3 linked regions of the Homo sapiens genome follow. The protein of the gene in region 3 purifies or fractionates together with the protein of the main gene of each other region. This does not show direct contact. Each region holds a gene or a part of one and is shown on either strand. Other genes may lie near its edges.

The links.
Region 1: the proteins of CEP104 (region 3) and TOGARAM1 purify together in Homo sapiens (co-immunoprecipitation; one large-scale study listed by IntAct). This does not show direct contact.
Region 2: the proteins of CEP104 (region 3) and WASHC3 purify together in Homo sapiens (co-immunoprecipitation; one large-scale study listed by IntAct). This does not show direct contact.

Annotation. Positions count from the first base shown.
Region 1 is NC_000014.9:44,968,690-44,972,189, reverse strand, and holds part of TOGARAM1 (TOG array regulator of axonemal microtubules protein 1), read right to left. Parts: intron 1-3,500. UniProt on the Homo sapiens protein: Involved in ciliogenesis. It is required for appropriate acetylation and polyglutamylation of ciliary microtubules, and regulation of cilium length.
Region 2 is NC_000012.12:102,055,492-102,058,991, forward strand, and holds part of WASHC3 (WASH complex subunit 3), read right to left. Parts: intron 1-3,500. UniProt on the Homo sapiens protein: Acts as a component of the WASH core complex that functions as a nucleation-promoting factor (NPF) at the surface of endosomes, where it recruits and activates the Arp2/3 complex to induce actin polymerization, playing a key role in the fission of tubules that serve as transport intermediates during endosome sorting.
Region 3 is NC_000001.11:3,815,712-3,819,211, forward strand, and holds part of CEP104 (centrosomal protein of 104 kDa), read right to left. Parts: intron 660-3,500; coding exon 569-659; intron 1-568. UniProt on the Homo sapiens protein: Required for ciliogenesis and for structural integrity at the ciliary tip.

The DNA.
Region 1 (3,500 bases), on a different chromosome or scaffold from region 3:
GTTTGTATCCTGTCCCAAATCTCATTTCAAATTGTAATCCTCAATGTTGAAAGAGGGGTTGCTGGGGGATGACTGGATCATGGGGTTGGATATCCCCTTTCCTGTTCTCATAATAGTGAGTTATCAAGAGATCTGGTTGTTTAAAAGTGTGTAGCATCTCCTCCTGCCCTCTCTTCCTCCTTCTCCGGCCATGTAAGACGTGACTCCTTCCTCTTCACTTTCTGCCATAATTGTAAATTTCCGAGGTCTACCCAGCCATGAGGAACTATGAGTCAATGAAGTCTCTTTTCTTTATAAATTACCTTGTCTCAGTTCTTTACAGCAATGTGAGAACAGAATACAGATGGAAAACCCCAACATACTTGTAGACTAAATACACTTCTAAGTTACATACAAGTCAAAGAAATCTCAAGTGAAATTTTTAAATATTTTGAAATAAATGAAAATACAATGTATCAAGATTTGCGGTATGCAGTGAAAGCGGTGCCTAGAGGAAATTTATGGCACTGAAGGCATATATTAGAAAAGAAGAAAGATCTAAAATCGATCATCTAAGTGCACATCCTAGGAAACTAACAAAGGAAGAGCAAATTAAATCCAAAGTGAGCAGGAGAAAAATAAAAAATAAAAAATTTGCATAGAAATCAGTGAAACTGAAAAAAGGAAATCAACAGAAAATCAACAAAAACAAACTCGGGTTCTTGGAAAAGATCAATAAAATTGATAAGCTTCTGGTCAGGCTAAGAAAAACAGAGAAACAAATTACTAATATCAGAAATGAAAGACAGACTATCACTACAAATCACATAAACATTAAAAGGATAATAAAGGAATACTATTAACAACTCTATGCTTATAAATTGGGTAACCTAGATAAAATGGATCAATTCCTTGAAAGACACAATGTGTAAAAACACACACAAGAAGATATGGATAATCTGACTAGGCCTGTATCTGTAAAGAAACTGAATAATTAATAACCTTCCAAAACAGAAAGCACCAGAGTCAGATGGGTTTACTGGTGGATTCCACTGAACATTTAAAGAAAAAATTATACCAATTCTCTGCAATTACCTTCAGAATATAGAAGCAGGGAGAATACTTTCTGACTCATTCTAAAAGGCCAGCACTACCCTAATACCAAAACCAGCAAAGACCTTATAAGAAAAAAAACAAAAACAAAACAAAACAAAAACCCCACAGACCAATATCACCTATGAACAAACATGTGAAAATCCTCAACAAAATATTAGTAAATTGAATCCAACAATATACAAAATGAATAACACACCACAACCAAGTGGAATTTATCCCAGGTATGCAAGGCTGGCTCAACATTTGAAAATCAATTAATATAACCCATCACATCATCAGGTTTAAGAAGAAAAATCACATAATTATATCAATAGATGCAAAAAAGCATTAGACAAAATCTAATATCCATATATGATGAAAACTCTCAGCAAACTAGGAATACAGGGGGAACTTTCTCAACTTTATAGCGAACACTACAAGAAAGCATACAGATAACATCATATTTATGAGAAACTCAAAACTTTCCCACTAAGATTAGAAACAAGGCAAGGATGTCCTCTCTCATCACTGCTTTTCAATATCATATTGGAAGTTCAAACTAATGCAATAAGACAAGAAAAGGAATAAAAAGTATACAGATTGGGAAGAAATAAAATTGTCTTTGTTCACAGATGACATGATTGTCTGCATAGAAAGTCTCAAAGAATTAACAAAAAAAATCCTCCTGCGAATAATAAATGATTATATTATAGCAAGCTTGCAGGACACAAAGTTAATGTGCAAAAGTCAAGCATTTTCCTCTATACCAGCAATGAACAAGTGGAATTTGAAATTTAAAAAAAATTACCATTTACATTAACATACAGAAGTAGGATATTTCAATCTAAATTTAGCAAAATATGTACAGTATCTATATGAGGAAAGTATAGAACTCCAATGCAAGATATCAAAGAAGAGCTAAATAAATGAAGAGATAATCCATGTTTGTGGATAGGAAGACTCAATATTGTCAAGCTGTTAGTTTTTCTCAACTTGATCTATAGATTCAATGCAATCCCAATCAAACTCTCAGCAACTTATTTTTTGGACATCAACAAACTGATTCTAAAGTTTATACAGAGAGGCAAAAAACCCAGAAGAGTGAACTCAACATGGAAGGAAAACAACAAAGTCAGAAGACTGACACTACGGAACTTCAAGATTTACTATAAAGCTACAGTAATCAAGACAATGTGTTATGGGCAAAAATAGGCACACTAATGGAGCAGAGTAAAGAGCCCAGAAAAAGACCCACATGAATACAGTCAGCTGATCTTTGACAAAGAAGTAAAGGCAATGGAGTAAAGACAGTGTTGTCAACAAATGGTGCTGCAACAACTGAACATGCACATGTAAAAAAAAATGAATCTAGAAACAGACCTGACACCCTTCATAAAAATTAACTCCAAATGGATCATAGACTTAAATGTAAATTGTAAAACTATAAAATGCCTAGAAGATAACATAGGAGAAAACCTAGATGACCTTGGGTATGGTGATGACTTTTTAGATATGATACCAAAGGCATGATCCATGCAAGAAAAAACTGATTAACTGGACTTTATTAAAACTTTAAAACTTCTGCTCTGAGAAAGTTAATGTCAAGAGAATGAGAAGACAAGACACAAAGTGGGAGAAAATATTTTCAAAAGATACATCTGATAGGCCAGGCGTGGTAGCTTGCACCTGTAATCCCAGCACTTTAGGAGGCCAAGGTGGGCAATCGCTTGAGTCCGGGAGTTCAAGACCAGCCTGGCCAACATGGTGAAATCCCGTCTCTACTAAAAATACAAAAAATTAGCCGGGCATGATGGTGTGGGCCTGTAGTCTCAGCTACTTGGGAGCCTGAGGCAGGAGAATTACTTGATCCCGGGAGGCAGAGGTTGCAGTGAGCCGAGATCGCACTGCACTCCAGCCTGGGCTGTCTCACAAAAAAAAAAAAAGAAAAGAAAGAAAAGAAAGAAAGAAAGGAAGGAAGGAAGGAAGGAAGGAAGGAAGGAAGGAAAGAAAGAAAGAAATGAGGTATCAAACCATGAAAAGACATAAAGGAAACTTAAATGCATATTACTAAGTGAAAGAAACCAATCTGAAAATGCAAGCTACTGTATAACTCCAAGTATGTGACATTCTGGAAATGACAAAACTATGGAGACAGAAAAAAAGACCACTGGTTGCTAAGGCTTGGGAATGGGGTGAGAGAGGGAAGAATGTACATGTAGAGAACAGAGAATTTAGGGCACTGAAACTATTGTTATGATACTATAATGGTGGATACAAGACATGGATACATTTGTCAAAACCCCACAGAATGTACTGAACATAAGACATGGATACATTTGCCAAAATCCCATAGAATGTACAACACAAGAGTGAATCTTAATGTAAACTATGGGCCTTGGGTGATAATTATATGTTAATATGGGTTC
Region 2 (3,500 bases), on a different chromosome or scaffold from region 3:
TGCACCACCACGCCCAGTTAATTTTTGTATTTTTAGTAGAGACAGCATTCCACCATGTTGGCCAGGCTGGTCTCGAACTCTTAGCCTCAGGTGATCTGCCCACCTGGGCCCAAAGTGCTGGGATTACAGGTGTGGGCCACCGTGCCCCACCCATCAAAGCTTTTCAAGTAGATAAGAAGTATCTGAATATGGGACCACTGATATATTCAGAACAGAAGTTTTTGCTTTCTTTGTTTCTTTCATGGTGGTAGCTGGGGTGAATTTTTAGATGGTCCCAATTTTCTACAGGAATGTTTAGATGAGAATTTTTTGTTTCTGTCCTGTGGTTGAGTTGGTGCCACAGAGAATTTCCATAAAATTCAATTCCATTATTTAAAATAGTTTTTTTTAACTAGTTTTTCTATCAACCAGCCCCAGTCTGAAACTTGACACAGTGTTAACACAAAAGAGCAAGTACTTAATCTTCGTTCACATACTCTACCTACAAAGACATGACCTACAGTAGTTCTTCAAGCAGGTCAGTTTTAGGAGACGTTAATTCTATCTAACTAGACTAGCTATTTCACAACTATGTAAGACAACTTTATAAACTTTGCTTTAACTTACAAAGGTCATTTAATAATCCCATTGTTTTGACGATTCTAAAGATTGTAAGTTTATTTTTACAGTCTACTCTTAAATATTACTGTTGAGGCATATATATGGCAATGGTGGACTTAATTCTGCCTAAGATATCTGAGCATCTGTAGTAAAATATGAAGCTACCTTCATTTGGTTGATATGCTAAAGACATTTTTAAAAGTATCTCATTTTTTAAAAACTTGGTTTGTGTGTTTTGTATGCTCAGGAATTTTTCCACAGTACTGGAGACCATTGCAGTGATTAAATTTGGCCCTTTTGACAGAAAACAGAACAATGCATTCCTAGGGATAAAAAAGGGGTGACTGCAAAGGAGCATGAGGGAATTTTTGGAGTGATTCTATATCTTGTTCTACAACTATTCTACATCTTGATTATGGTATGATTATGCATTTGTCCAATCTCATACTTAATGGTAAATTTTACTGCATATAAGTTCATACTCCAATAAACATGACTTTACAATTAAAACAAAAGAAATATGAAGGCTCATAAGAGATTGCTATGACCAATTATATGCCAACAGATTGGATAACCTAGAATGGATAAGTTCCTAGACACATACAACCTATCAAGACTAAATCATAAAGAAATAGGTAATCTGAACAGACCAATAATAAGTAGAGAGATCAAATCAGTAGTTAAGTCTCCCACTAAACAAAACCCCCAGGACTTGATGCCTTCACTACTGAATTCTACCAAACATTTAAAGAAGAACTAATACAAATCCTTCTCAAACTCTTCCAAAATACTGAAGAGGAGGGGAAACTTTCGAACTCAATTTAGGAGGCCAGCATTATCCTGATTCCAAAGCCAGACAAATCCACTACAAGAAAAGAAAATCAAAGGTCAATATCCCCAGTGAACATAGAAGCAAAAATCCTCTACAAAATACTGGCAAGCTGAATACAACAGCGCATTAAAAAGGTCATTCACCAGGATCAAGTCAGATTTATCCCTGGGATACAAGGATGGTTCAACATATGCAAATCAGTAAAGGTGATACATCACATTAACAGAATGAAAGACAAAAACCGTATGATCATCTCAATAGATGGAACAAAGGCATTTGACAAAATTCAACATCCTTTGATGATAAAAACTCTCAACAAATTAGGTATAGAAAGAATCTAGCTCAACACAATGAAGGCCATTTATGACAAGCCCACAGCTAGCATCATACGCAATGGTGAAAACTGAAAGTTTTTCCTCTAAGATGAGGGACAAGACAAGGATATTCACTCTTACCCCTTCTATTCAACATAGTACTAGAAGTCCTAGCTATAGTAATTAGACAAGAGGGAAAAATAAAAGGCATTGAAATTGGAAAAAAGGAAATGAAATTGTTTCTGTTCGCAGATGGCATGCTCTTATATATTGAAAATCTTATAAAAAATTCCACCAAAAAATTGTTAGAACTAACAAACTACTTTGGTAAAGCTGCAGGATATAAAATCAACATACAAAAATCAGTAGCATTTCTATACACTAAAAGTAAACTATCTGAAAAAAAAGAAAAAAAATCTCATTTACAATAGCTACAAAAAAAATACATAGGGGTAAATTTAACCAGTGAGGTGAAAGATCTGTACACTGAAAACTATAACACATTGATGAAAAAAATTGAAGAAGACACAAATAAATGGAAAGATAACGTGTGTTCATGGATTGGAAACATGAATGTTGTTACAAGGTTGACACCACTCAAAGCAATCTACAGACTCAATGCAATCCCTATCAATTTTCCAATAATATTTTCACAGTAATAGAAAAAAAAATCCTAAAATTCATACTGAACCACAAAAGACCCTGAACAGGCAATGCAATATTAAGCCAAAAAAACAAAGCCAGAGAGATCACACTCTCTGATTTGAAAATCTACCACAAAGCTACAGTAATCAAAACAGCCATAGACCAAGGAAACAGAATAAAGAGCCCAGAAATAAATCCATGCATTTAAAGTCAATTGATTTTTGAGAAAGATGTTAAGAACACAGAAAAGACAGTTACAGAAACATACTTTTCACAGATGTTAAGAATAACAGTCTCAATAAATCATTTTGGGACAACTGGATATCCACATGCAGAATGAAATTAGACCCTCATCCTTTACCATATAAAAAAATTTAACACGAAAAGGATTCAAGATTTAAATGTAAGACCTGAAACTGTAAAACTACTAGAAGAAAACATAAGGGGAAAGTTGCACGACATTGGTCTGGGCAATGACTTTTTTTGGATATAAACCCCAAAGCACTGGTAACAAAACCAAAAATAAATAAATGGGATTACATCACACTAAGAAGTTTGTAGAATCTGGATTTTAAATTATTTTTTAAAAATTATTTTAAAAGACTACGAAGCTTTTGCACAGCCAACGAAACCATCAATAGAGTGAAGAGAACCTATGGAATGGGAGACTATATTTGGAAACCATATATGTGATGAAGGGAACCTCTGTACACTGTTGGTGGGAATGTAAATTAGTACAGCTATTATAGAAAATAGTACAGAGGTTCCACAAAAAATTAAAAATAGAACTACTATATGATCCAGCAATCCCACTTCTGGGTATATATCCAAAGGATGTAAAATTAGTACATTCAAGAGACATCTGTACTTGAAAGTTCACTGCAACATTATTCACAATAGCCAAGATACGGAATCAAAAGTGTCCATCAATGGATGAATGGATTAAAAAAAGTGGTATATATACACAATGGAATACTATTTAGCCTTAAAAAAGAATGAAATCCTGTCATTTGTGACAACATAAATGAACTGGAAGACATTGTGTTAAATGAAATAAGCCAGTCAAACAGAGACAGATACTGAATGATCTCACTTATATATGGAGGATA
Region 3 (3,500 bases):
AGAGTCTCACTCTGTCACCCAGGCTGGAGGGCAGTGGCGCAATATTGGCTCACCACAACCTCCACCTCCCGGGTTCAAGCAATTCTCCTGCTTCAGCCTCCTGAGTAGCTGGACTATAGGTGCCGGCCACTGTGCCCGGCCAATTTTTTATAGGGTTTCACCATGTTGGCCAGGCTCATCTCGAACTCCTGACCTCAAGTGATCTGCCTGCCTTAGCCCCCAAAGTGCTGGGATTATAGGCGTGAGCCACTGTGCCTGGCCAGCTTCCTGATTCTAAACACTTGAGTCAGTGATGTAGAAAGAGCGGAGGACGGGAGTGTGAATCCTAGGCCACCCGTGGAGCCTTCGCACTGCACAGCCAGTTTGCAGGTGGAGAAGGATTTTGGTCACACGATTCTGATTATTAGCCTGCTTACTAAGGAACCAGAACATGAAGACAGGCTTGGATGCTTTATTTTGCTTTTAAAGGGATGGGGTCTTGCCATGTTGCCCTGGACGGGGATGCTTTTTTGAATAAGTCAAAATGGAGGGATGCAGACTACACCTGCTCAGCGGCGCTGTCCCTCACCTGGCTGCAGTGCCGGGGCCTTCTGCAGAATGTGTGTCTTGCGCAGGTTCATCGTGCAGCCGGCTGGGCCCATCAGGTGAGCTTTCCATGCCTGCAGCAGAGGAGGCACACAGAGTGTTAATCAGGCGAGACGGACCTGGCACGCTACCTGAGACCCAAAAGGACTCGCTGTGTAAGCTGAAAACGAGGGCGGCCGCTCCAGCAAGAGCCGCAGAAGAACGGCTCCCTCACCTGGGCACCTCCCTTCGGATATGTTATGATAGCCTCTGCAGTCTGTGCAGGGTACAACTCAGGAAGCAAGAAGTCCTGTCACCAGGCAAGCCTGCATCTCGCATCCCCACCCAGCCACACAGGGCCCTTGGTGTCAGTGACTCTGAGCACAGCAGAGCGTGCACGCAAATGCAAGGGTGAGAAGCAGAGCGCCCGCGTGATTACGTTCCAGGCCAGAAGACAGAACGCGCCAGGCACCGCGGGCTCCCCGCCAGCCTGCTGCCCACGGTTCCTCGTGGGGTTCCCACTCTCTTCATCCCTGCTCTTCCTGAGCCACGCCACATGCACTTGCCCTGCAGAATGTGGGGCTTATGCAGGCCTGACTGCCTGGGCAGCCAGCTTCTTTCCTTTACGACCAGCTGTGGGACCGTCTGCATGGGGACAGGGAGCTCATCTCGTCCTCCTGTTGGATATAAACGCGGGATCGCTGGTTCCCTGAGTCTTCTGGACATTCGAGTTGTTCCTGGTTCCTTCCCTTCTATTTAAACAACACTCACGAGGCTGGGCGCGGTGGCTCACGCCTGTAATCCCAACACTTTGGGAGGCAGAGGTGGGTGGATCACCTGAGGTCAGGATTTTGAGACCAGCCTGGCCAGCTTGGTGAAACCCCGTCTCTACTAAAAACACAAAATTAGCTGGGTGTGGTGGCGCATCTCGTGTCCCCAACAGCTAATCCCAGCTACTCAGGAGGCTGAGGCAGGAGAATTGCTTGAACGTGAGAGGCGGAGGTTGCAGTGAGCCGAGATCACATCAGTGCACTCCAGCCCGGGCAACAGGGTGAGACTCCATCTCAAAAACAAACAACGCTTCCCAGGGACACTGCTCCAGCCGCTCTCCCATTCTCTGGTGGACCAGTATCTCCACCAGACACAGCCCTGCTTCTCCCTGGTTCCTCTCTCACTCTCACCAGTGGCTGTCAGTTTCTGGCCACCTGCGGCAGCCCTCAAGATACTAGAGCGCTTGCAGCCCCAGCCCAGCCCACTCCTGTCCCGCTTTAGCTGCTCCCGGCAGGCCTGGGTTCTGGTCTCTCCAGGCCACTGGCAACCTTCGTGTCCCTAAAGCTGGGGCGCCTTCTCACCAGAATGTGGCCCACCGGCACATGGGGTGCAGTTGCTTCCCCCTCCCCCGTGGAGGGACATGACCTGCTCTAAGGCTCCAATTCCTCCCTCCCCAGCACAGAGGTGGCAGGTCCCTCTCCATCCCTTGAATCTGGGTGACTGTGGCTTGCTTTGGCCAATGGGACAGTGGCAGACACGTGGCAGGGCAGGCTGAAATGAACTCATGCGCCTGGGCTTGTCTTGCTGTTGCCCTCTGCTGCTGTCGCGAGAACGCCGTGCCCAGGCTGGCGTGCTGGGCTCAGACACAGAAAGCAAAGCTGAGGTGCCGCAGCTGCCTCCAAGACCATTCTCAATCAGTCTCCGGCTGCGGACCCCAGGCACACGCGTGTGTGAGCCCAGTCAGGGCCAGCAGAGCCGCCTGGCCGCCCTATGGCCAAGTGCAGATGCAAGAGCCAGGCGGCTGCGATCAGCTGAACCCAGCCAGGCCAGCAGGGCATCCTCTCTGATGGGCTGTGCTCTGGGGCCTCCAGGACGCCACCCTCGTCAGGCTTCCTCCCCAGTGCATTTCTTCCCCAGCGCCTGGTTTGCCTTCTTCCTCCCACTCTGCCTGGGGCTTCTCCTCTGTCTACACTTGCTCTTTAGAAGAGTGCTCCCAGTATCATGACCTTAAACCCACTTCTTATACACGCTTACAAACCCCACATTTCCACCTGCAGCCACCTGTCTACCGGCCTGCGCGTCTGACAGGGATTTTAACTCCACAGCTCCAGGCTAAGCTCCTGAGCGCCCTGGATTCCTGACCGCAGTTACTTCCTTGCCATGTTGTGAGGACTCCACCGGCCAAGTCCTGGGTCTGCCTGCAGTGTGTGTCCAGAATCTGACCACTTCTCGCCACTTAGCTCTCTGCTACTACCCGACCTCTCTGTCCCACAGGCTGCTCTCAACAGAGCAGCAAAACTGGCTGGCATAGGGCCCGCCAGGCCATGCCCACTCTTCCGCTCAAACCCTGCAGGGACATTGCCTTCCACTCACTTTGAAGAATAATGGTCAATGATTTTTCATCCCCAGCATTGTCTTTCAGTCTATTTATGTTCTTTGATGAAGAGGAGGTTCTCACCTTTTACAATTTAATAGTTTTATTATAAAATGAGTGTACAGTTCAGTAGTGTTAAGCATGTTCACGATGCTTAACTCCAGAACTCTTTTCATTTTACAAAACCCAAACTCTGCCCCAAGGTTCTTCATTTTAATCTAATTGAATTGATCTGCCTCTTCCATCAAGGCTTAAGCTTTCTGTGTCCTGTTTGAGAAATCCCTTCCTATTCTGAAGGCTATTCTCTTATCTCTAGCATCTCCTGAGAGATTCATAATTGGGCCTTTCACATTTGAATCTCAGATCCACTCGGAGCTTTCTTCTGAGCAGTGTGGAGGGTGTCAAACTTCACTGTTTATCCCCCTTCACATTCAGAAAAATTCCAGATGTTAGAATTAGCACAAAAGGACTTTAAAGCAGATACCTAGTATGTTCAAGGACTTGAACGTGCAATGAAGTGCTACTGATCTATTAGAACCCGGGCGAACCTTGAAAACACGTTAAGTCAAAG